7 linked regions of the Homo sapiens genome follow. Changing the gene in region 4 together with the main gene of any one other region gives a genetic interaction. Each region holds a gene or a part of one and is shown on either strand. Other genes may lie near its edges.

Region 1 (3,500 bases), on a different chromosome or scaffold from region 4:
AATAAAATTTTGGAACATGTAGGAAAACTGAATTGGACCTACATGCCACTTTAAGGTTAATTTATTTTTCCTTCAGAAATGACATACTAAAAAGTCAGCTAATTAAGAAACGTACATTTATCTCCTATACCAGGTAGAAGGAACAGTTAGTAGGAGAAAAAGATTCTCTTTGCAGTAATTTCTTACAGAAAAACAATCATGTATCTATTTGATTGCTGCAGAAACGGATATGGATGTGAAGAGAAGAGACCTTTGGGAGCTCAATTTAATGAACTACTTACTCAACTGATAGGCATCTGTAGTAGCTGTTATTTATTGAACATCTAATATGAGCTACATGATTGATCGTGTGTGTGTGTGTCTGTGTGTGTGTGTGTGTGTATGTGATTTCCAACTTCCAGAGCCTGCCTGTTAGGTATTATTCCATTTTACTCATGAGATAAATAAATGAAGCCCCAAACCACACATAAACTTTTGGCTAAACTAGAATTTAGAGAATGGCCTAACAGCCGAGTTCTTTTCCATTAATTCATTCTGCTTTCTATTTATCCCTCATTCAAAACTCTAACATATATACTTTCCTTTTTCCACCACTTAACGCCACTGCCCCCATCGGCTTAATTCAGCAAACACTATTTAAAGAAGGGACACTCAGTAAGGAATAGAATACAGGTTCTTGAAACAGTTTCTGATTTCCACTTTAAATTATAAATACAACATTAAACCAGATAGCAAACTCAAAAGCTAGATAGGGTGACATATTCTGCAAATCTTAGAATAGGAATGGGCAAATACTTTTTGTATAATGAATAACAAGCTTCTCAAAGGCAACTTTCATGTCAGTGCTTAGAATTTGGGTTTTTTTTTTAAAGTCTTATAAAGTTAAAGAAATAAATCCCTCAATTATTTGCAATCCACTCCTCATTTTGCAAATTTTAGAGCAATCTTAGCCATTTTTGCTTAACAAAATAATATAAATACTCTTAAGAAGAAAGAAAAAGGAGAGCAAATAGAGGGGAAAGTTAAGAGAGGGTGCTTAACTTTCTTAAGAAGACACATTGATTTCTCAAAAGTTTAGAGGCTCTTTCAAATTAATAATGAGAGACAAAATAATCTGTTAGGTTCCTGATTTGTCAACATTATGTTGTTTCTTAGCTCCCGATGGTTTATTGGTGGAAGCATAGATTCTATTTAAAATAAACGAGACAATTTTCTAGGGTCTACTTCACAGATATTTAGAAAGCTTGAATAAAATCTGATTTGTAAAATCAGACAAAAGTCACCTTTGTCTAAAGGTGGAGTGGTTTTAATAAAATTGTGGAGGCAGATAGTAGCCCTCAATAAAACAGTTCGGAAGCCTCTAAGTCCAACAGCATCATTTTGATGTGAAAAAAGAAGAGCCAGAGAATGACAGGATTTTAAACTTGGAATGAATTCAGAATATTATGCTAAATTACAACCCATCCTCTTTTAGGACTTCTAACAGCAATATGGTCCTAGAAGACAATTATAGAGACATGCTCATTCTCTTTCTATGTATATTTTTGATCCACTCCCTGGGTGGCAGTGTACCCCAAACACCTAGGTCCTGTTTTCTTTTTCCTTTTGAGACAGGATCTTGCTCTGTTGCCCAAGCTGGAGTACAGTGGTGCAATCACAGCTCACTGCAAGCTGCAAACTCAAACTCCCAGGCTCAAACGTTCCTCCGGACTCAGCCTCCAGAGTAGCTGGGACAACAGGTGTGCCCCACAATGCCCAGGTAATTTTTCAGAAATTTTTTGTAGGGATAGGGTCTCCCTATGTTGCCTAGGCTGATCTTGAACTCCTGGGCTCAAGCAATCCTCCCGAGCCTCTGCCTCCTATAATACTAGGATTACAGGCATGAGCTGCTGTGCCCAGCCTGGGTCCTGTTTTCAAAGAGAGAGCTCACTTACAAATCTTTCCTGTGTACAGCAGAAACCAGGTTCCCAACATTTCTCAGTTCCTCAGAGCCAATAAACTTTTTGTCTGACAGTTACCGGGAGAACACAGAGCAAAGTCTAAATTCAGGGTGAAGACATCTAATTAATGCCCTTCAATTAAATTTGGTGGAAAATAAGAAATGGAGCTAGGAATAACTACTTTCCTTTTCCTCTTCATTGGGAAAATCCAACTGAATGATCTGAATGAGTTTAACACTACTTTCAAATAAATTACAAAGGAAGTTAATGTATTCCGAAGGTGGATGTGGATGAGGCAAATAACCCTGTCAGTCATCACACAGGGACTGTTGAATACTTGCCTTTGAAAACTCAGAAGGACACAAGGCAAATCCAGATTTATAAATTCACTAAATTTTGTGCTCCATGTATTTGGGCAAATTATAAATGAAACAATCATATCAAATCAAATTATGGACCAAAGTATAGAAAATTTAACCTGGCTACTCCCAGGAAATATAAGTTCATATTATTAGTGAGTGGAAGGTATCTTAAATTTGGACCCCACAATGGTAAAAATGTGCATATTGTGTAAAAGAGAGTCTAGGTAAGAAACAGCAAAGTGCGGAGTGATGAGAGTACAAAAGAGTATATAGATCTGAAGCTCAAAAGACGGATAGGATATAAATGAATACATAAATTACAGCCAAGGAAAATATTTGAAAATTATCTATGAGAACTCTGCCTAGCTGAACATGTCATGTTCATGTCTAAAAAGTTCGCATATATGATACGAACAATTAAAGATAGAAAGTGGCATTTCACTGAACATACTATTTTATGTGGGTGGAGAGAAAAATGGGAGAAATTTGAAAAAACCTCTTTATAAAGCTAAAAAACTTCTCTAATACACTAACTTTTTTACATGACATCTCTGGAAGCAGTTAATGGAAGAAATGAACTTTGCCTTTGAAGTCCAGCAGTATCAATAACTGTTACTTTCATAATCTTAATCTTCTCCTAGCAGTGTCTTAATGATAATTTAAACTTTATTTAGATCCTGAGAGCTATATCAAGTTAAATCCTCAAATTTTTAATTTTTAGCCCAATTTAAATTGTATATAACCTCTGGTTTTATTTTTAAATTGTGGCATAAATTTAAATCCTAATATACACTTTATTTTGCCCTAAATTTCTTTCTAAAAAGGAATTAAATCAAGTAAAGCCAGATTTAAACAAACAAAAAAAGAGACTTGTTAAGTTCTGTGTTGAAACTATTATATATAGAACTGTTTGTTTGTTTGTTTGTTTGTTTGTTTAGCTTACAGGGATAGGTGGCATTATAAGAAAGAGCTCGGGCTTTGTAATTTCTCTAGTACCTTCCCAGATATTGTTCCTTCAAATGCCCTTCAGGAAAAACAAATCCCACTTAAAATATGACTTTTTAAATTGCCATGAATGAATAATTAAAAACAAGTAAAATAAGTCACTGGCACTCATAGGTGGCATGGTTAAATGCATTTTTTTCCTTGTAGTTGTATATAACCTCTGGTTCCATTTATCAAATTTGGATGGGCTAGA
Region 2 (3,500 bases), on a different chromosome or scaffold from region 4:
TTAGCCACAGGCAGCTGGTGCCTATAACCACCACATTGGATAGCACAGATATAAAACATTTGCAATACCACAAAAGTTCTAGTACACAGTTCTTACTTACAAGCCCAAACCACCAATTCCAAATGCAAAATGATCAATAAATAAGGAAAACAGGGAGAAAACTGGACACTCAAACAATGAGTACCTTCTAGAGCAAGCTTTTCCAACCCAGGGCCTGCGGGCTGCACGTGGCCCAGGGCTTTGGATGCAGCCCATCACAAATTTGTAAACTTTCTGAAAACATTACGAGATTTTTTTTTTGCAATTTTTTTTAAGTTCATCGGCTATCATTAGTGTATTTTATGTGTGGCCCAGGACATTTCTTCTTCCAATGTGGCCCAGGGAAGCCAGAAGATTGGACACCCCTGTTCTAGAGGTTGCATTTAAATATCATAAATAAGTGACAGGTGCATGTCTTTCAGGCTGAAGGAAGAGGGTATGAGGCCAATACATTCTCCAAAGGTTTTTTAAAGAGGAGTTCTGCAAATTAGAAGAACAGCGAAGAACAGAATATTGGAAAAGAAATTGTGGCCTATGTGACAGGTAGCTTTGGATTATATTCTCTGGGTCTTGGTTTCCCCATCTATTAAAAACAGGGGATTCAACTAGATGTTTTCTAATTAACTTTCTGATCTCATTGGTACTTTTCAAAAAAAATGAATAGAGATTACTAACATCTTCAAGACCAGCCAAGATTAAACTAAAATTCAACTGGGTTAAACTCTAGTTGTACTCAACACTAGCTGCAAACTAGAAGACTGTGCTTTGACCCATGACAACAAAATGGAGTCTTTGGGGTGGTCCCCAGGCATCTAGAGTTTTTAAAAGCTCTGCAAAGTGATTCTGACACACTATGAGGGTTAAGAACCACTATGCTGGAACACAAGTGACCGTATAGTTCAGGCAGGAAAAGATAATGGGAAACATTTTCCTCTTGTCAGGCAATCAAAGCTGTATCTACACAGATGGCAACTTACAAGAGAAAGGTTAAGTATATTACAAATAAAAATCCTTTGAATTCGACTTTTACAATCCAGGAGAGAACATCTGTCTGAAAAAGAGCCAAGTAGAATAAAATAAATAACTAAAACCAAAATTTTGAAATGAATTCTCATGTATTAAAAAATGAATCCCTTATTAAAAAGTTTAAACACTAGGTTGTTTATCTAAAGCTCACAGAAGAAAAAGACCTAAGCACAAAGGGAAGATTTCCTACAGGCAGAAAGTTAGCATTTAAAAGGGTCAGGGAATAGACAGGTGTCTGTGAGACAGGACCACAAAGGTACAAGACTCACACTGCTTCGAAAACTTTCTAACACTAGTCTGCCAAGGAGTTCCATCCTTTCCTACCTATCACAGAATTAAAAACAAAACAAAACATTAATGATTCATAGGTAGACAATTAAGTGAGAAGGTGAAGGGGTAATCTGTTTTGCAAGGCCATTACTGAACATGATGGCTAACATTTACTGGCAGGCTCGTCTCAGTACTTTCCAGTTATTTTCTGGCTGAATTCTTACGACAACCTTGTGAGTATGTATGATTATTATCATTTTACGGTTAAGGAAACTGAGAGAAATAGAGGTTAGGAAACTTACTCAAAGTTACATAGCTGGAAATAAAAGAGCTAAGATCTAAATCCAGGAAATCTGGCTCCAGAGCATGTGCTTAACCTGTATGTTATACTGCCTTTCCCTCTCTGCCACCTTGTGTGTCTACACCGGCATGGAGGTCTGTGACTGACTAAATGGTAGCTGGAGATACAGACACAAGAAGAGGAAGGGGAGCAGGGAACAGAGAATAGCATCAGGACAGCAGCTACTCTAGAGGACAAAGCAAGGATGGGACTCTGAGATATGTACCTGAGGAAAGGGGGAAGTATGAATTTTCCCTAATTCTCTTACCTTGGACTGTAATATATATATACCAAATTTCTGAGAAACAGATATAAGGTGAATGAAACAAAGGACAAAGGAGAAACACCAGGTATTAAACTAATTTAAAATCCAGAGGTAGGGAGTAATAAGGTAAGCTAAATACAGGGAGACTGAACTCTGTTATCAATCCTAATATTCAGAGAGAAAGAAACAGCTTTACCTGAGAAATAGAGGTTTTTTCAGTTCATAATGAAAGTACATTCTCTCTAGCAGAAGATAGTTAGAACACGTGGGTAGATATCATGAACATCATAGCCATTACAGAAGTATATCCCAAACTGTAAGCAAGTGAATTGACATTCTGGTTTATAAACTCAATTAGTTTATTTAGGTAAGGGACTAAAATGGCTTTTAGATCTCTAGGCATAATAGATCAGAGGTAGCATGTCTAATATTGCCTAACCAAAACCACCTGAAGGCTAGTTAACTCAATTCTATTAAAAAAAGAAAAAATCCCCAAAACTAATTCTAGACATATATTTTAACAATCTTTCTCACCTAAACATCTTCCATAAGTAGAACTGATGAGAGTTCCAACAGACCACATTTTTCATGACATTAATACTAAACCATGAAACAAGCATACCGCAGATAGGAAAGGAGCTAAAATAAAGGGGCTATAATAAACCATAAACTAGACAGTAAGTCTTGGAGTAAATTAGGGTTTGGCTGCAATCTGGGAAAAAGTTGTGCTGGAAAAACAAAAGTACATTACATGGTAAGCTTTTCACTTCTTGCTTTTACTATTTGTTGTCAAACAACAAACATAACAAGTAAGCAGTATATCACTGCAGGTACCAAACATAGCCCTTTTAATACATAAACATAACAGCAAGATGCCCTTCATTTATAAATGGGCATCTTGTGCTCATTAAGTGTTTATACAAGAAGACTAAAACTGTCACTGGGATCTGGAGTTTCTCATGAGTATGCTCAGGTCTCAGAACTGCTGTGGGATGATTAATAAGGGACTGTTGCAAAAAGAAGACAGACTTGATGGGTTTTTCAACTTATGAGGAATTTTTCCAACTCACAAAAGTAAACTGAAGCCTCTTTCTTGGCAAGGCAAGCTACTCAGTTTGAAGAAAGACCTCATAATGCATTATCTAGACTATAAAAGCAAAATACTGAGAGTCTTCCCTAGAGATAAGTAAAAGGAGTATACACCCATGGACACTGGAATACAGATAAGAAACAAGAATCCAAAACTTTTTAAAGGATACGGTCTGTACCAGGAAACAATGTTCTTCCAGTCAACAGCTCGGCCATTATGCATCCCACTGACCAAATATCAACTGGCAAAATTAAAAAGAAGTAAAAGTATATGCAATGTCACTGTTACAATTCTTGGCAACAAATGAAACCGTAACTAGGGGTGAAATATTCAAATTACTATTTAAGACATCTGAGGCTCAACAATCATACTCATTTTTACAGAAATAAATAGCTTACTAAGATCTTCACCTGACTAAAGGGCTGTTCAAAGGTGGGGTAAGTCAAAACACACTTAAGAGAAATAAGCTG
Region 3 (3,500 bases), on a different chromosome or scaffold from region 4:
TGAGCTTTCTGGCTGCATGGTTTGGGTGTTAGGAAATTTAGTTAGGATTTTATTTCTTTTCCACTTTTAATAAGTGAAACAAATTGGTCTCTGAAGACATCCTAACATTACTTCATTGAAAATAGTCCATTTCAGGATTGTCTTTCTATAAGAAGTCTTGGATGGAGGTAGAGAGAGAAGATGAGAGAAGAAGCTATTGGTCAGAGACAGCTCTCAATTGAATCTTTATGTGGCAGTGTTTCTGGGATTTATCTGTGAGACAGCAAGAGTACAAATATCTGAATTTTAAATTATATTATATTGAAGTTACTTGACTTTTAACGCTGAGAAATACATTGTTTGGGTTAATTTAAATACTATTTAGTTGTAAAGTTAGTGGTAAACTAAGTGCCAGCCATAGTAGGAAGAAATAATTATTAGGGAAATACATTGCTTTCAATAGTGTTTTTTTTTTCCTAGTGAGGCATAATTGTTTTAAGAAATATCATGATGACTAGGTAGGATTAGACTAAATGAAAGGGCTTGAATCTTTACGTATTATGCATTTCACAGTCAGATTAACCAATCCCTCAAAATGTTTAGTTCTTTAAGCCGTATTCGTAGTCTAATGTTGAAGTTAATCAATGGAACCCTAATTCAGGAATTAGCCAATTCTTTTCTGTTAATATCAGATCAATGTTTTTAATCCAATGCTGACTGCAGTTTTAAGCAATTGAAGTAATACTATTTTGAAATATATTTCAGATATACCAGTATATTCAGAGTCGCTTTTATCGGTCTCCAGAGGTGCTACTGGGAATGCCTTATGACCTTGCCATTGATATGTGGTCCCTCGGGTGTATTTTGGTTGAAATGCACACTGGAGAACCTCTGTTCAGTGGTGCCAATGAGGTAAATGATGTATTGCTTTACAAATTCTGTTTTCATAATTTCTTTTTGTCTTTCATCTGTGACAGTGTAATTTAAAAGTTGTTTTTAGGCAAAGATGTCTACTTAATCATTCAAATGTGAGGTCAGTTTGAATATACCTATTTTTCATATTTGTCAGTTGTCATGTAAGTTTAGAATTATGAGATAGGAGTAGGATATTTTAATCTACTCATGAAGGAGAACAGTTAGAAAGTGTTAAGTATTTTGGCATACATTTTACAGGTTTTAAATACAATACAGAAAGCTTAAAGATGATAAAGAATGAAGGCCATCCTGAAGAGTGATACAAACATCACTCTAAATTTTGAGATTATGATTTGGAGTTGAAGAGTAATGATCAGTAGGACTGATGGATACTCAGTCTGAATAATGTAGAGTAAACGAGATTATAGACTTGTAGGGCTACAGAGACTGTGTGCAGTTCTGAAGTCTACAGGTTTTCAGTCTGTGTTCTGGAAGATTTTTCAAGGTCAGAGGCAGTGAATGGGAGGGCAGGGACAGGCCTTAACTTCCCTGCAGTCAGAGAAATTAGACTTTCATTGTTTTAAAAACTACACCTGTGGGGTTTTGTTTGTTTTTTAAAAGAAAAATTGACAATTTGCACGTCTTGATCAGTCTATTTATAAATGAGAAGAGAAAGGCCAAAGGCATTAATGACTTGTACCGGATTACACAGCTGTTAATAGGTGGTGTCAGAAACTTGTTTCTTCCATCCTTCCTTTTAATTCTTCTTTTTTTTTTTTTTTTTTTTTCCCGGAGATGGAGTCTTGCTCTGTCACTCAGGCTGGAGTATAGTGGGGCAATCTTGGCTCCCGAGTAGCTGGAATTACAGGCAAGCGCCACTATGCCTGGCTAATATTTGGATTTTTACTAGAGTTGATGTTTCACCATGTTGGCCAGGCTGCTCTCGAACTCCTGACCTCAAGTGGTCTGCCCGTCTCAGCCTCCCAAAGTGCTGAGATTACAGGCGTGAGCCACTGTGCCCAGCCCCTTTTAATTCATTTCAACTTGAACTGGTGAGCTACTCTTTTATAGTAACTGTCATAGTTTGTTTTTTTTTTTAGTATAAATCTTACTGTGTAAATTAGTATCTTTCTTGGGCTTAAACAATATTAAAAAAACTTTGCCATGTTACTCATTGTAAAGGCCGAGGTCCTTTGAGTAACCCACAGATTCCTACTTCCTCTGATGCCAGTTCTCTCACCACCACCTGGTCTCTCCTTCTCCCCTCACTCTGTGGTCCCTTGAAAACGCCAGCTACAGGCCCATAGCCCTTTGTATTTCTTCCTTCCTGTGCCTAAAATGCTCTTTTCTGAGATACTCCTTTGCTGATGTTAGTGTTTGCTCTGATGTCACATTCTCGGTGAAACCATATACCCCACTTACGGTTGCAGTACCCCTTCTCCTCATCCCATAGTTCTTAGCCAGCATCTGACATCATGTATTTAATTATTTATTGATAATGCCGGGCGCAGTGGCTCACACCTGTAGTCGCAGCACTTTGGGAGGCTGAAGCAGGCAGATCACTTGAGGTCAGGAGTTCGAGACTGGCCCTGCCAATATGGTGAAACCCCGTCTCTACTAAAAATAGAAAAATTAGCCTAGTGTGGTGTTGCGTGCCTGTAATCCCAGTTACTTGGGAGGCTGAGGCAGGAGAATGGCTTGAACCCAGGAGGCAGAGCTTGCAGTGAGCCGAGATCACGCCACTGCCCTCTAGCTTGGGAGACAGAACAAGACTCCATTAAAAAAAAAAAAAAATTGTGTGTTTGTGTGTATATGTATTTGCTGTCTTCCCACTATAACATAAACTTCTTTTTGGCAGGAATTTTTATGTTTTGTTTATTATTTTCTACCACTGAATATGGTTCCTAGCATATAATAGGCACACTCATTTAAAGTACTTAAAAAAGTACTTTATTAGGTCCATACTTTATTAAGCCTCTGGGATTTTGTGTGTGTGTGTGTGTGTGTGTGTGTGTGTGTGTGTGTGTGTGTGTGTGGTTATTTAACATGCTCTGAAAACTGGGTTGGGTGCCGTACCTCACGCCTGTAATCCCAGCACTTTGGGAGGTCAAGGTGGGAGGATTGCTTTATCCCAGGAGTTTGAGACTAGCATAGGCAACATGGTAAAACCCCATCTCCACAAAAACTTTTAAAAATTAGCTGGGCATGGGGCCGGGCACGGTGGCTCACACCTGTAATCCCAGCACTTTGGGAGGCCAAGGTGGACAGATCATTTGAGGTCAAGAGTTTAAGACCAGTCTGACCAACATGGTGAAACCCTGTCTCTACTGAAAAATATGCCTGTAGTCCCAGTTACTCAGGAGGCTGAGGCAGGAGAATTGCCTGAACCTGGGAGGTGGAGGTTGCAGTGAGCCGAGATTGCGCCACCGCACTTCAGCTTGGGTGACAGAGCGAGACTCCATCTAAAAAACAAATAGCCGGGCATGGTGGTACATGCCTGTAGTCCCAGCTACTCAGGAAGCTGAGGTGAGAGGATCACTTGAGCCTGGGAGGAGGTCAAGGCTGCAGTGAGCTCTGAGTGCACCACTGTACTCCAGCCTGGGTGA
Region 4 (3,500 bases):
CAGGTATGAGCCAGAGCGGGATGAGTGGCACTTGGTGGCCCCAATGCTGACACGAAGGATCGGGGTGGGCGTGGCTGTCCTCAATCGTCTCCTTTATGCCGTGGGGGGCTTTGACGGGACAAACCGCCTTAATTCAGCTGAGTGTTACTACCCAGAGAGGAACGAGTGGCGAATGATCACAGCAATGAACACCATCCGAAGCGGGGCAGGTGGGTGGGGACGGTAGGGAGGGGAGCACCCAGGAACACCCCCTACCATCCTGGGGTGAAACTGAGCCAGGCCTGGGAGAGACCCCCTGTTGCAACCCTCATGCTGGGGTAACCACAGAAGCCCTGGATTCTGATAGAGTCCAAGCTTCTCTCTCTCCCCGCTTCATTTCTGAGGGTGAGAAGGGAGAGGAGAGAGGAAAGGTCTCCCTCAAGGAGGTGATGGCTGGGGTTCCCAAAGCCAGACCCCCAGAGTCACCTTCTCTGCATGGTGCCCTTTAGGCGTCTGCGTCCTGCACAACTGTATCTATGCTGCTGGGGGCTATGATGGTCAGGACCAGCTGAACAGCGTGGAGCGCTACGATGTGGAAACAGAGACGTGGACTTTCGTAGCCCCCATGAAGCACCGGCGAAGTGCCCTGGGGATCACTGTCCACCAGGGGAGAATCTACGTCCTTGGTGAGGCCCTGGGGGCGGGGAAGAGTCCTGACTAGCCCATCTTTTGTGGACTGCTTTTGCTTTTGCTTTCCTTTTTTTTTTTTTTTTTTTTTTTTTTAGAAACAAGGTCTCGCTCTGTTGCCCAGCTGGAGTGCAGTGGTGTGATCACAGCTCGCTGGAGCCTCAACAGCCTGGGCTCCAGCCATCCTCCTGCCTCAGCCTCCCAAGTAGCAGGGACCACAGGCGCGCACCACCACACCCGGCTAATGTTTTTTTTCTTTTGAGATGGTGTCTCACAGTGTTGCCCAGGCTGGAGTGCAATGGCATGATCTCAGCTCACTGCAACCTCCACCTCCTGGGTTCAAGCGATTCTCCTGTCTCAGCCTCCTGAGTAGCTGCGACTACAGGCACATGCCACCACACCAGGCTAATTTTTTGTATTTTAGTAGAGACAGGGTTTCACCATGTTGGCCAGGATGGTCTCGAACTCCTGACCTCGTGATCCACCTGCCTCGGCCTCCCAAAGTGCTAGGATTAGAGGCATGAGCCACCGCGCCCGGCCTGTTTTGTTTTTTGTTTTGTTTTGTTTTGTTTTGTTTTTTGAGACAGAGTCTCAGTCTGTTGCCAGGCTGGAGTGCAATGGCACGATCTCAGCTCACTGCAACCTCCGCCTCCTGGTTTCAAGTGATTCTCCCCCATCAGCCTCCCAAGTAGCTGAGATTACAGGCGCCTGCCACTATGCCCAGCTAATTTTTGTATTTTAGTAGAGATGGGGTTTCACCATGTTGGTCAGGCTGGTCTTGAACGCCTGACCTCAGGTGATCTGCCCACCTCAGCCTCCCAAAGTGCTGGGATTACAGGTGTGAGCCACCGCGCCCAGCTTAATGTTTTTGTTTATTTTTATTTTATTTTATTTTATTTTTTTGAGACAGAGTTTTGCTCATGTTGCCCAGGCTGGAGTGCAATGGCGCAATCTTGGCTCACTGCAACCTCTGCTTCCCAGGTTCAAGTGATTCTCCTGTCTCAGCCTCCTGAGTAGCTGGGAATACAGGCACGTGCCACCACGCCTAGCTAATTTTTTTTTGAGATGGAGTTTCACTTTCGTTGCCCATGCTGGAGTGCAATGGCTCGATCTCGGCTCACTGCAACCTCCACCTGGCAGGTTCAAGCGATTTTCCTCCCTCAGCCTCCCGAGTAGCTGAGGTTACAGGCATGCGCCACCACGCCCGGCTAATTTTGTATTTTTAGTAGAGAAGGGTTTTCTCCATGTTGGTCAGGCTGGTCTCGAACTCCTGACCTCAGGTGATCTGCCCGCCTCGGCCTCCCAGAGGGATGGGATTACAGGTGTGAGCCACCATGCCCGGCCAATTTTGATTTTTAGTAGAGACGGGGTTTCACAATGTTAGCCAGGCTGGTCTTGAACTCCTGACCTCAGGTGATCCACCTGCCTCAGCCTCCGAAAGTCCTGGGATTACAGGCATGAGCCACTGTGCCCGGCCTTTATTTTATTTTATTTTTATTTTTTTATTTTTTGTTTATTTATTTATTTATTTATTTTGAGGTGGAGTCTTGCTCTGTCACCAGGCTGGAGTGCAGTGGCACAATCTCAGCTCACTGCAACCTCCGCCTCCCGGGTTCAAGCGATTCTCCTACCTCAGTCTCCCAGGTAGCTGAGATTACAGGCGTGCATCACCAATCGCATCTAATTTTGTATTTTTAGTAGATACAGGGTTTCACTCTGTTGGCGAGGCTGGCCTCGAACTCCTGATCTCAGGTGATCTGCCCGCCTCGGCCTCCCAAAGTGCTGGGATTGCAGGCATGAGCCACCGCGAGTGGCCTATTTTCCTATTTTTATTTATTTATTTTGAGATAGGGTCTCACTCTGTTGCCTAGGCTAGAGTACAGTGGTGCAGCCTCTGCTCACTGCAACCTCTGCCTCCCAGACTCAACTGATCCTCCCCACCTCAGCCTCCCTAATAGCTAGGACTACAGGCGCGCACCACCAAGCCTGGCTAAATTTTTATGTTTTTTTGTAGAGATGGGGCTTCACCATGTTGCCCAGGCTGGTCTCAAACTCCTGGACTCAAGTGATCCACCCACCTCAGTCTCCCAAAGTGCTGGGATTATAGGCGTGAGCTACCAAGCCTGGCCATTTTTTTTTTTTTTTTTTTTTTTTAGTAAGAGACTAAGGTTTTGCTATGTTGCCCAGGCTGGCTTCGAACTCCTGGCCTCAAGCAATCCTCCTGCCTCAGCCCTGCAAAGTGCTAGGATTATAGGCGTGAGCCACCACGCCCGGCCTGCTTTTGCATCTCACAGCTGCATCTCTCTCTTTCTGTCCCCTGCTCTTGGATGTGGTGTGACAGGTGGTGACCATCCCTTCTGTTCTTCCCGCAGGAGGCTATGATGGTCACACGTTCCTGGACAGTGTGGAGTGTTACGACCCAGATACAGACACCTGGAGCGAGGTGACCCGAATGACATCGGGCCGGAGTGGGGTGGGCGTGGCTGTCACCATGGAGCCCTGCCGGAAGCAGATTGACCAGCAGAACTGTACCTGTTGAGGCACTTTTGTTTCTTGGGCAAAAATACAGTCCAATGGGGAGTATCATTGTTTTTGTACAAAAACCGGGACTAAAAGAAAAGACAGCACTGCAAATAACCCATCTTCCGGGAAGGGAGGCCAGGATGCCTCAGTGTTAAAATGACATCTCAAAAGAAGTCCAAAGCGGGAATCATGTGCCCCTCAGCGGAGCCCCGGGAGTGTCCAAGACAGCCTGGCTGGGAAAGGGGGTGTGGAAAGAGCAGGCTTCCAGGAGAGAGGCCCCCAAACCCTCTGGCCGGGTAATAGGCCTGGGT
Region 5 (3,500 bases), on a different chromosome or scaffold from region 4:
TCCCCAGCGAGAATCTCCCTCAGCCTCATTCCTGCCCCTCATTTTCTCAGAGGTTAACATTTAACAAATTACACTCCCAACCTCTTTCCAGGCCCATCATCTTTTTAAGTTCAACAAGAGTGGAGCTTGCTGGCTAATTTTAAGTATCACATTTCTCCCTGAGCTCCTCTCAAACTGCTCTCTGGTTTCGGCTGCAGAATGTTAACAGGCCAGAAAACACAGGGGAGACAGAGCACTTTATCAGTTTCATACCTAAAATAATAAGCAAGTTTAAAATAAACAGTTGAGAGAGATTGAATGGCACGCTCTACTGTCAGCAAAGGCAGAAATGCCCCAGCCCAAAGGTTGACAAGTGACGGGAACAGTCTTCTAGTTTCACACTGGATCTCATCTCTGAACTCGGTAATGTTTCTGATAGTGTTTATAAGTGGAGCTGTATTTTTCACTTGGTTTTCTTAAGAGCGAAATATTTCTAGTTTTCTTATGAACTATCCTAATCAAGATGTGAGTAGAAGCAGCCCAAGCTCCCACAGGTACCTTAAGAGAGGGGTCCCAGGTTTGACTTTAGGATGATGACAATTTGCAAAAGCCTAATTTAACAGCAACTGGATTTTTCCTGCCTGCTTGCACCATCAGCTGACAACTCACTTCTCCATCACATCTGCAAACAGTTGGCCTAGACAGTTCTGACATTTCCCACTTAGAAAAGCCACTTTCAGGAAGTTATTAACCCAAACGGAATCTTCCTGGTCAAGCTCAGGGGTATAGAAATGCCTCACGTGGGCAGGTCTGTATTCATTTGGTTCCCAGTAAGGGATAAGAACTGCCAAACAGGACAAATTGGAAAAATCGGACCAAAGATGTCAGTTACTATGAGACTAAATACCTAGATGTGTTTATAGTACATTCATAATAAAAATCTCATTTTTCTGAGAGTCTAATTCCATGATAGCAAAGACAATACCTATTTTTGTTTACTACTATGCACTAGCACAATGCCTAGTTCCAAAGTAGACAAAAATTTGCAGCATGGATAAATAAATGTAGTGTTAACTATGCGCCAGGCACTATGCTAGAACCATAATACGTTACCTCATTTATTTTAACTACCACCCCAAAGCTGTAAGTTAAGAATCAAACAAGAAAACCGAGGACCAGAAAAGCAAAGTAACTGCCCATGGCCACCAGTTAGTAAATGGCAAAGCTGGGACTAAAACTCAACTCTGCCAAACCCATGCTCTTTCCATTACATCCCTCCCCAGAACATTGGTTCAGTCACTAACCTGGTGAGGTCCTTATATTGAGAGTCTTATTGAAATTATCCTTGAGAGCTTCTATCACAGACTTCATTTCTTCATTCACCTCTTCCAAGTTGATTATATCCTCAACCAAGGCAGCATTAATATTCACTCTGGTTTGGGACTGTCCTTTCCCTTTGGCTAAAAAGTGAACATTCAGTGAATAAAACAACAGCAGCATAAACAGAGCCAATAAGCAATTGGTGAAGAAGTACCTACTATGTACAGGGAAAAATGTCAAGTGTTAGAAAATTATAAAACATTATCGCTCCACTAAAAAAGAGCCTATATTAACTGAGTGTCAACTGTGCTAAACACCTTCTCAGATACTAGTGAGGGGGCACACTTTATAATCAGACACCCCAGGTTAGAAGTCTGGCTATAATGCATACTAGCTTTATGACCTTAGGCAAGTTATCTTTCTGAGTATCAAGTTCCCTACCTGTAAAAGAATAGTAACATCTATATTGCAAGGTTGCTACAAGGATACAAATTAAGTCATTCAAACACCTAAAAGAACACTATACACATGGCAGGGAATCCATAACTAAATTAATCCCTTACTTTTCAGAAAAGTAAACAGAAGATGAGAAAGGTAAAGCTATTTGCCTAATGTCACAGGTCAGGAAATGGAAAAGTCAAGATCTGGTTCCAGATCTGCCTAATTTTAAACCCATGAACTTTTCACTAGCCCATCTCCACAAAATCTAATTAGAGAGACAGGAAATACATTAATTCATTAAAAATGGACACTAAGACAAGGATATGCACACAATATCTGATGGCTGGTAGAGTACAGACAAAAGGAACAATAGTAGTTTACAGACATTAAACACTACCAATGGTAGAGACAATGGCTTATATTTTAGAAAATCAACAGCATTGGGAGCTGAATATAATTTCATTTTATGTCTAAATCATCGTAGTGATTTTTCATATACATTCTAGGTGTATACATAGATAATTTCTGTGAGTGATGCAAATATTCTTGCATTTCTTTTATAGGGAATGGGGAAGGAGAAAAACAATAAAATTTTAAACAATATTTACACTGTTTATTCATTAAACATTCAACAAATATTTATTGAGATTCATTAAATAAATTTTGTTGAACATCTACAGTGAACTCAATCCTGTACTATTTGGGTGGCATATTATAACTTGCAATGCAATTTCAAGTACATTCTCCTCCTTGCTATCCAAGATAGCTCTCTGAGGTAGGAAGAATAGTGATTAGTATTGTCCCCATGGTACAGATGAGAAATCTAAGGCACAAGCCATTTAAATGTTTCGTCCAAAGTAAACAACTGGTAAGCAACAGAGTGATTTTTAAAAACATTTATTTGCCCATGTTACCATTATGCTTTGAAACCAATGGCTTAGGTTTTTTTTCAGAACTGATAGAAGATGTGGGGCTGGGCGCAGTGGCTCATGCCTATAATCCCAGCACTTTGTGGGGCCGAGGCAGGCAGATCACGAGGTCAGGAGTTCAAGATCAGCCTGACCAAAATGGTGAAACTCCATCTCTACTAAAATTACAAAAATTAGCTGGGCGTGGTGGCGTGTGCCTGTAATCCCGGCTACTCGGGAGGCTGGGGCAGGAGAATCGCTTGAACCCGGGAGGTGGAGGTTGCAGTGAGCCGAGATCAGTGCCACTGCACTTCAGCCTGGGCGACAGATCAAAGAAAAAAAAAAAAGATGTGGATCTTCGGATTGAGAAACACAAGTTTCAAATAGGACAATAAAAGTAAATTCACACCTAGACATGTTGTGACTGCAGAAAACAAAGGACAAAGAGATCTTTATAAACGCCCAAGAGAAAAGACAAATTATCCATGAAGGATTAAAACTTAGAACACTTTCCAAGAGCAACAACAGAAGCCAGAAGCAACTGAAATAATATCTTCAACTTTGAACTTTTAAAACCAAATATGCACATTAATAATTTAAAGATATGCCTGTCAATATTGGAATGAATAGTAATATTTATGAATGAAATACTATGCAACCATGAGAAAGAATGAACACACACAAAAATTTAAATGAGTCTCACAAACATGATGTTGAACACAGAGGCCAGACACAAGAAAACAAAACTGTACAGTACAAAGGCCAGATATGAGAATATAAACTGAAAAGTAAAAAAAAAGAGAAAACGAATCCATGCTACTAGAAGTCAGAATAATAGTTATCTGCAAAGGG
Region 6 (3,500 bases), on a different chromosome or scaffold from region 4:
GCATCACAAAATCTGTTTCAATTTTAAAGACCAACTTTAATTTGAAAAAGAAACTTTTAAAATATATATATATAGAGAGAGAGAGAGAGAGAGAGAGGGAGAGAGAGAGAGAGAGACATTTTTTTTTTTTGAGATATAGTCTTGCTGTGTTGCCCAGGCTGGAGTGCAGTGGCATGATCTCCGCCCACTACAACCCTCCGACTCCCAGGTTCAAGCAGTTCTCCTGCCTCAGCTCCTGAGTAGTAGCTGGGATTGCAGGCGCCCGCCACCACACCCAGCTAATTTTTGTATTTTTAGTAGAGACAGGGTTTCACCATGTTGGCCACGCTGGTCTCAAACTCCTGACTTCAAGTGATCCGCCCGCCTCAGCCTCTCAAAGTGCTGGGATTACAGGCATGAGCCACCGTGCCCAGCTAAAATTTTTTTTAATAGCTTTAAGAAAGTCTCTTCCCACTCTACTCCCCCAATTTAAAGTTATCAATTTATTTTCCTAACTGAATGGAGCAGACTATTTTTATTCAAAGCTTAGGAAAGACCATGATATTTCAGCAATCAGATGAATTAAAATCCCATCCCGGTAAGCAGTAGCCTGTTATCTACCAAGGGAAAGCAGTATTCTTGACCTACTCAACAAAAGTGCTCCCACTCGGCCAGGCATGGTGCAGGCCCAGGCGGGTGGATCACCTGAGGTCAGGAGTTCATGACCACCCTGGCCAACATGGTGAAACTCCACCTCTACTAAAAATACAAAATTAGCTGAGTGTTGTGGCACATGCCTGTCTATAATCCCAGCTACTTGGGAGGCTGAGGCTGGAGAATCGCTTGAACCTAGGATGTGGAGGCTGCAGATAGCCAAGATCACGCCATTGCACCACTGCACTCTAGCCTGAACAAGAGCGAAACTTCGTCTCAAAAAAAAAAAAAAAGTGTCCCCACTCAATTCCTACAACTTCCTTATCCCAAAACAGGGGTACGCATGCACACAAACACACACACACAGAGACAGACACAAAGAGAAAGAGAATGAACAAAACAAGAATAAGACGTAAGTTAAGAAACTGCAGGTTAAAATTTCCTTCTTCTCCAAAGGCAGTCATCCTCTATAAGAAAATGTTCTTCCTTGGGTGTACAGAAATTTTATCTAGGAATTGCCTGCAGGACCATTTCAACTGTTCCCCAAACAAGAAAACCTTTAGTATGGTACCACTTTGGGGGCAGGTGTCTTATTTCTCAATGCTAACAATTCATTTGTACATTAATGTTAAAAAAGTTTAAACACTAAAAATGTCTAGTTTCAAAATAATAGATAAAAGTTAACAGTTTAAGTAGTTTCTAATTGCAGGAAAAATCTTCGAGATGTAGCAATGGAACAGCAAATTGGGAATTTAAACTCACAACCTTCACATGTGGATCAATTAACTATTAACACAAATCTCCTGAAATCTCTTCTCGGCTCTCTGCCCCAGGAAAAAGCAATGAAAAAGTACTCAGCAAAAGACAAACTTTTAAAAAGCAATGCTGGGTCCAGACTAACAGGTCATAGGACTGACTGAAATTCAAGACGTGAGAAATCAGCTAACCCCTACCTACCTCAAAATCTGGCAAATTGTTGAATAAAAAGTTAATATGCTAAAAAAAATATATAAACCTCCCTGTAAATTTTTAAAACATATATGGCCTTTTCTCAGAGTTACCAGATAAAGCACTAACCCCAAAATTAAATGCTTACCTCATTATTTCTTAAAATTAAATCCAAACTGACAAAAAGAAATTTCTCCAACTCAAAACGGAATCCACATTCATCACCTGAATACCACACAGAAGTAAGGAGGGGAGTATAGGGTTGAGCCAGGAAGGAGAGGGCAATGAAGACTTAAAGTAATAGACCAGATTATGTGTCAAAGAAAAATGAAAAAATTACAAATTTTGTTTTGGAGGAACACCAAGATACAGAACTAACAGCAGCAAATAAAACCAAGTAACAATTTCTTTTTTTTTTTTTTTTTTTTTGAGACAAGAGTCTCACTCTGCTGCCCAGGCTGGAGTGCAGTGGCGCAACCTTGACTCACTGCGACCTCCACCTCCCAGGTTCAAGTGATTCTCTTGACTCAGCCTCCCGAGTAACTGGGATTACAAGCACGCACCAACACGCCCGGCTAATTTTTGTATTTTTAGTAGAGGTGGGGTTTCACCATGTTGGCCAGACTGGTCTCAAACTCCTGACCTCAAGTGATCCACCCACCTTGGCCTCCCAAAATGCTGGGATTACAGGTGTGAGCCACCACGCCCAGCCAACAATTCTTATTTGCTTACTCTGTAGATGGCACGGTGCTGGATGATTTACCTGCATTATTTTATTTACTCCAAAAACCCTAAGGGTACTATTATTTAATGTTATTCTCCCTTCTCAAATGGTGAAACTTGGGTTTAGAGAACCTAAGAAACTTGACTAAACACACAGCTAGTTAAATGAATAAAAAAAAAAAAACACTCCTAGAATTTCAAAAGTGCAGAAATTTGTTCAACCAAACCCAACATTTCATGGGGAAGAAAGAGAAGCTCAGTCGAGATAAAGGCAGATTAAGAAACTACTCAAAGTCACCTGGGTAGAGAGACATAGACCCCACACACCCAGCAGTCTCTCCTAACCACTCTGTACCATCCTGAAGTCATTTCCTACCTAGAGTTTACTTAACATTTAGGTGTTCTACCTACCAACAGAACTTTACACATTTTTCAAAGAAATATGAGCAACAGAAAGGAGGAGGTAATGTACACACACATATTCATTAAATAACATAATACTTTACATTTTATCATGGCTACTTTATGATTTGTTATATTTATTTTTAAAAAGGAAAAGGTATCTCAATTTAATTATCTTAGTTCCCTAATTTTGCAACTCTTCATATGAACAGAAGGTAACAACTAAATCTAAGTCAAAGAAAGTTAGGGTAAAAGGCATTGTTTTTAAATTCTCCGTTCCCAATTTTATATTTTTTTCTGCTCAAAATCACATAGTAGAAAATATATATACTGAAAATTGTAAAAACAGTCTGGTGTTTCAGGAGTCTTAAAAAAGTAAGTCCAATTTGTGCCATTCTAATCTCCTACCAAGAGAACTGACTTCTGCTTATTAAAATGATTAGTCTGCTGTGTTCTCTCCCTCCAGTTACTACTGCTAAACAATCATGGTGGAATGAATTTTAACATTCCAGGAGTCAGGCAATGAATAGCTACCCTATTAAGTGTAAATATAAAAAAATCGCTTTAGCTCCATAATCTAAAATTAATATAAAAATGTATGCAGCTTTACTACAGACTGTACTAGACACTGTTCTAAGCCCTTGACATGTTAACTCATTTAATTTCACAGCTATATGTGGTCCACCATATTTCCCCAGTTTACAGATGGGGAAAACTAAGGTACAGAGAAGTTAAGTAACCTGCCTAAAATTACACATGCAGCAAGTGGTAGAGCTGAGACTGCATCCAGGTGG
Region 7 (4,060 bases), on a different chromosome or scaffold from region 4:
CCCTTGAGGCTTGGCCCAGAGGTTAAGGAGGGGAGCCAGGCCTAAGGGAGGCAGGGCAAGGGCCTTCATCTTCGACCCTTGGCTCAAGACCACCCTGGACATACTCAGCTTCAGCTGAAGAGGGAGTCCCAAGACCAGGGGCAGATCCAGCCCTGGCCCCGACCCAGAAGACAACACCACCTTCTGCAGAGTGTGTGGGAAAGGGACGGTAGAGAGAGAGGGAAGAATGAGCCGGGCCTACTGCCTGTGGCCTCACCCCTAGCTGCCTTAATTCTGCCTCTTCGCTATGCCTCCACCTACTGGCCATTCTCACCACTTAAATCCTGCCCCAATTTTTTTTGGCTTGACCCTTTTTGAAACCACACCTGCCCCAAGTAAATATGCAGTCTAAGTCAAAACTGTTTGCTTGCTGTGGGGAGCTTCAAGATATGTCCCTCGCCCCTACCACCCACCTGAGTGCCATCCATAAGCCTTATTTTTATTTTTATTTTTTTGAGACAGGGTCTCACTGTGGCCCAGGTCAGAGTGCAGTGGCACATCATAGCTCACTGCAGCTTCAAACTCCTGGGCTCAAGTGAACCTCCTGCCTCAGGCTCCTAAATAGCTAGGGCAGCAGACATGTGCTACCATGCCTGGCTAATTTTTTTTTTTTTTTAGACAGAGGTCTCTGCTATGTTGCCCAGGCTGGTGTCAAACTCCTGGCCTCAAGTGATCCTCTGGTCTTGGCCTCCAGCACCTGGGATTACAGGCAAGCACCACCATGCCTGGCTAATTATTAATGAAAAACAATTCTGTGGAGCCAGTCTTGTTATGTTCCCTGGGCTGGAAACCTTCCTAATATTGACATGTTGGACTCCCCTCTTCCCTCATTGCTCCAGGCTCCACTGAATACAGGCAATGCCCCACTGTCCCCCTTTACTTGATCTTGGAGGTGGAGACTGAGCCAAGATGGGTTCTCTGGTGTCCCAAGAGCAAGGAGGTGGCCTGAGCCTGCTGCCTGCTTGAGTCCCAGGTCCAAAGAGAAGGCCCAGGGCTCTGCATGAGGCTGGGGAATGTCTGTGGGGAGAAATGATTATCCTGAGGCCTCAAAGCTGGGGTCTCAAGGAGGAAAGGGGCCAGTGGTAGAGGGGGACAGAGGCAGGCTGAGCTGGCCAGGGTGGGAAAAATAGACTCCGAGGAAATCTACCTCGGAGATTGAATTCTGCCTGAGTCCCTGGAGGGAGAAATATCCCGGGATTTGATTCTACATCACAGCTTCTGAGGCTAGTGGGGGCAGATGCTGAGATCTCGGCCTGTTTGTCCAGCCAGGAATCCCGGCGCAGGCAGCCATCCAGGGCAGGAACCAGCTGGAGTGTGACAGAGATAAGATACGGGGATGTAGAAATCAGGGCATCGGAGCCGCAGTCCCGACCTCCCTGCCCTCAGTTGACTCCCCTCTGAGCATTTGGCCTCCCCCTTGCAGCTCTCAACCCTTCCCTTCTCCCTAAAAGTGTGGACTTAGATTCCCACGGCCAGCCACCCAGCAGTGCTTTACCAAGTCTTGGCTAGGGTTCCACCCCTGGGGTGTAGTTACCGGCAACCGAAGGTTGGAAGCGGGGAAGAGCAGCCCCCCAAGCGCAATCCTCATGATGGGATGGCGTTTGCTGGTCAGGGGCCCAGAGACCTGTCTCAGGCGCAGCACCTCCTCCCCATCCACCTCCAGCAGCACAGAGTCCCCCTCCATCTTGACTTCCACCTGCAGGAAGGTGGGAAGCAAAATCAGAGGCCCCTGGGATCTGTTTCTGCCACCTTCCTGTGAGGCAGCCTAGTACTATAGTGGAAAGAACATGCCTTAAAGAAGCAGCTAGCATCCTTGGCCTTGGGTCACTCAGCTCTTGTCACTTATATACTGACTGAGCCTTAGAATTCCCATCAGAAAAGATGGGGCCAAGAATAGCTACTTTGTGGGGGTTCGTGTGGATTAAACGAGATGACAGTGGTAGAGGGATGCCCAATAACTTGGTTTTGTTCCCTTTCCTCAGACCAGCTCCAGACATCCCTCCCCTGAGGACCAGAGCTAGCTTACCTGGTGCCATCTCCCATCATCCAGCCGTGGTCCAGCACCCACCGTAAGCTGGGCCCAGTGATTGTGCAGTTGGATCTCAGGCCTGCCGTCTCGAAGTCCCAGCATAAACCAGTCATCCTTAGGGTTGGTATCCCCATAAAAAATCACTCCCTCTGGGTCCCAGGTTCGAACCTCAAAGGAGGAGGAGGTTCTGGAAGGACACAGAAGGAAAGATTGTGTATGTCATGTGTCCTTTGAGAACCAGTGTGGGTTTGGGGGAGATGGTGTTCACAGATAAGGAAAGGAAGACAGGGAAAAGAGAAGAGCTGATGGAGAGAGGGCAGAACCAGGGGACTGGGTCAAGGGCTAGGCCAACCCCATACTTTGTGATCTTGGTGAGGTCAAAGGTCATGACAGCGATAGGCTCTTGTCCTGGGCCATTGCTGAGGTGGACAGCCGGAGGGTCGTGGGCACTCTATCAGAAAGAGAAAACAAACAAAGCTGAGTAGGGACATGTCAGAGACAGACAGAGGGAGAGGCCCTGCTACAGGGCCAGAGGAGAGAAGGGAAGACTGCATGAGCTGAGTGCCCTGTCCCGCTCCTGCACCTGGGTGGGGAGAACAGGTCTCAGGGCCCATCCCTGGCGGGTGTGACGCAGTAGTAGCAACAGCAGCAACAGCAGCAGGCGCGAGGTAGCCAGTGGGCCTCTGCTCTCCATAATCAGCCACTGTCCACTCGGCGGCTCAGACAACTCTTGGGAGAATGTGTAGAGGCAGGCAGCCTTGCGTGTGGGCGGTGGAGGGTTAAAGGTTGCCCGGGGAGGAGGGGGTAAAGGAAACAGGGGCACTGACCCTTGACCCCTGCCCAGGGGCCCAGTCACAAGACTCAGCTATCACCCCTCTGGGGATCAATGGGGTGAAGGACAGAGTCCCCTCCACTATCATCCTCCACTGCCGAGAAAGTTTCTGAACTGGGAGAGGATATTCCATCTCCCCTCTCCTCCTCTAGGGCCTGATCTAGGTCCTCCAAGATTTCTGTCCACTCGGGGAGCCTGCATTCACAGGCCTGAGGTCTAGAAACAGTCCTCCCCTGCGTCCCAAGTAGCATCCTGTATCAGGACTAGAAATGAGATAATGGAATCCTAAATTTCTAGCTGAGTGACCTTGGGCAAGTCACTTCACCTCTGTGCTTCAGTGTCCTTGTCTGTAAAATGAGGAAAATAATACTTTACGGGGTGACTGTGAAAGAGGGTTCATTGAGAAAATGCAGGCACAGTGCCTGGCATCTGGTCTGAACTCCTCCCCCAGTCTTTTCCCAGGCCTCTGAGGCCTGTCTCCCAAGAAGGTATTGTCTGTGTGTATGATTCAGTGAATATTAAGAAGGGACCTGCCCCCCGCCTCTCAGTTATCTTCCCTTATCCATTTATTACAGGGCCTAAACAGTCTAGCAGTAGAAATCACCCACTCCCTGACCCATTTTATTTTATTTTATTTTATTTTATTTTATTTTATTTTAGACAGAGTCTTGCTCTATCACCCAGGCTGGAGTGCAGTGGCGTGATCTCGGCTCACTGCTGCCTCTGCCTCTCGAGTTCAAGCGATCCTCCTGTCTCAGCCTCCTTAGTAGTTGGGACTACAGGTGCACGCACCACCACGCCCAGCAAATTTTTTTGTGTTTTTAGTAGAGACGGGGATTTCACCACGTTGCCCAGGCTGATCTCGAACCTCTGACCTGAAATGATCCGCCCACCTCAGCCTCCCAAAGTACCTGGATTACAGGCATTAGCCACAAGGCCCGACCCTCCCTGACGCATTTTATTTTATTTATTTATTTTGAGATGGAGTTTCGCTTTTGTTGCCCAGGCTGGAGTGCAATGGCACGATCTCGGCTCACTGTAACCTCCACCTCCCAGGTTCAAGCGATTCTCCTGTCTCAGCCTCCCGAGTAGCTGGGAGTAAAGGCATGCGCCACCACACCTGTCTAATTTTTGTATTTTTAGTAGAGACGGGGTTTCAC

What was found.
Region 1: changes in KEAP1 (region 4) and VGLL3 together harm fitness more than expected from each alone (negative genetic interaction), as found in Homo sapiens cells (one large-scale study listed by BioGRID).
Region 2: changes in KEAP1 (region 4) and MAPK14 together harm fitness more than expected from each alone (negative genetic interaction), as found in Homo sapiens cells (one large-scale study listed by BioGRID).
Region 3: changes in KEAP1 (region 4) and DYRK1A together harm fitness more than expected from each alone (negative genetic interaction), as found in Homo sapiens cells (one large-scale study listed by BioGRID).
Region 5: changes in KEAP1 (region 4) and MRRF together harm fitness more than expected from each alone (negative genetic interaction), as found in Homo sapiens cells (one large-scale study listed by BioGRID).
Region 6: changes in KEAP1 (region 4) and RRAS2 together harm fitness more than expected from each alone (negative genetic interaction), as found in Homo sapiens cells (one large-scale study listed by BioGRID).
Region 7: changes in KEAP1 (region 4) and SHBG together harm fitness more than expected from each alone (negative genetic interaction), as found in Homo sapiens cells (one large-scale study listed by BioGRID).

What each region holds. Positions count from the first base shown.
Region 1 is NC_000003.12:86,942,650-86,946,149, forward strand, and holds part of VGLL3 (transcription cofactor vestigial-like protein 3), read right to left. Parts: 3' UTR 1-3,500. UniProt on the Homo sapiens protein: May act as a specific coactivator for the mammalian TEFs.
Region 2 is NC_000006.12:36,076,308-36,079,807, reverse strand, and holds part of MAPK14 (mitogen-activated protein kinase 14), read right to left. Parts: intron 3,272-3,500; coding exon 3,200-3,271; intron 1,974-3,199; exon of another isoform or gene 1,944-1,973; intron 1-1,943. UniProt on the Homo sapiens protein: Serine/threonine kinase which acts as an essential component of the MAP kinase signal transduction pathway.
Region 3 is NC_000021.9:37,492,273-37,495,772, forward strand, and holds part of DYRK1A (dual specificity tyrosine-phosphorylation-regulated kinase 1A), read left to right. Parts: intron 1-744; coding exon 745-891; intron 892-3,500. UniProt on the Homo sapiens protein: Dual-specificity kinase which possesses both serine/threonine and tyrosine kinase activities. Exhibits a substrate preference for proline at position P+1 and arginine at position P-3.
Region 4 is NC_000019.10:10,486,357-10,489,856, reverse strand, and holds part of KEAP1 (kelch-like ECH-associated protein 1), read left to right. Parts: intron 1-3; coding exon 4-209; intron 210-488; coding exon 489-665; intron 666-3,038; coding exon 3,039-3,205; 3' UTR 3,206-3,500. UniProt on the Homo sapiens protein: Substrate-specific adapter of a BCR (BTB-CUL3-RBX1) E3 ubiquitin ligase complex that regulates the response to oxidative stress by targeting NFE2L2/NRF2 for ubiquitination.
Region 5 is NC_000009.12:122,278,382-122,281,881, reverse strand, and holds part of MRRF (ribosome-recycling factor, mitochondrial isoform 1 precursor), read right to left. Parts: intron 1,440-3,500; coding exon 1,284-1,439; intron 1-1,283. UniProt on the Homo sapiens protein: Responsible for the disassembly of ribosomes from messenger RNA at the termination of mitochondrial protein biosynthesis. Acts in collaboration with GFM2. Promotes mitochondrial ribosome recycling by dissolution of intersubunit contacts.
Region 6 is NC_000011.10:14,352,684-14,356,183, forward strand, and holds part of RRAS2 (ras-related protein R-Ras2), read right to left. Parts: intron 1-3,500. UniProt on the Homo sapiens protein: GTP-binding protein with GTPase activity, involved in the regulation of MAPK signaling pathway and thereby controlling multiple cellular processes. Regulates craniofacial development.
Region 7 is NC_000017.11:7,628,875-7,632,934, reverse strand, and holds the start of SHBG (sex hormone-binding globulin isoform 1 precursor), read right to left. Parts: upstream 2,801-4,060; 5' UTR 2,763-2,800; coding exon 2,652-2,762; intron 2,520-2,651; coding exon 2,428-2,519; intron 2,256-2,427; coding exon 2,066-2,255; intron 1,736-2,065; coding exon 1,574-1,735; intron 1,347-1,573; coding exon 1,187-1,346; intron 1,057-1,186; coding exon 920-1,056; intron 184-919; coding exon 1-183. UniProt on the Homo sapiens protein: Functions as an androgen transport protein, but may also be involved in receptor mediated processes. Each dimer binds one molecule of steroid. Specific for 5-alpha-dihydrotestosterone, testosterone, and 17-beta-estradiol.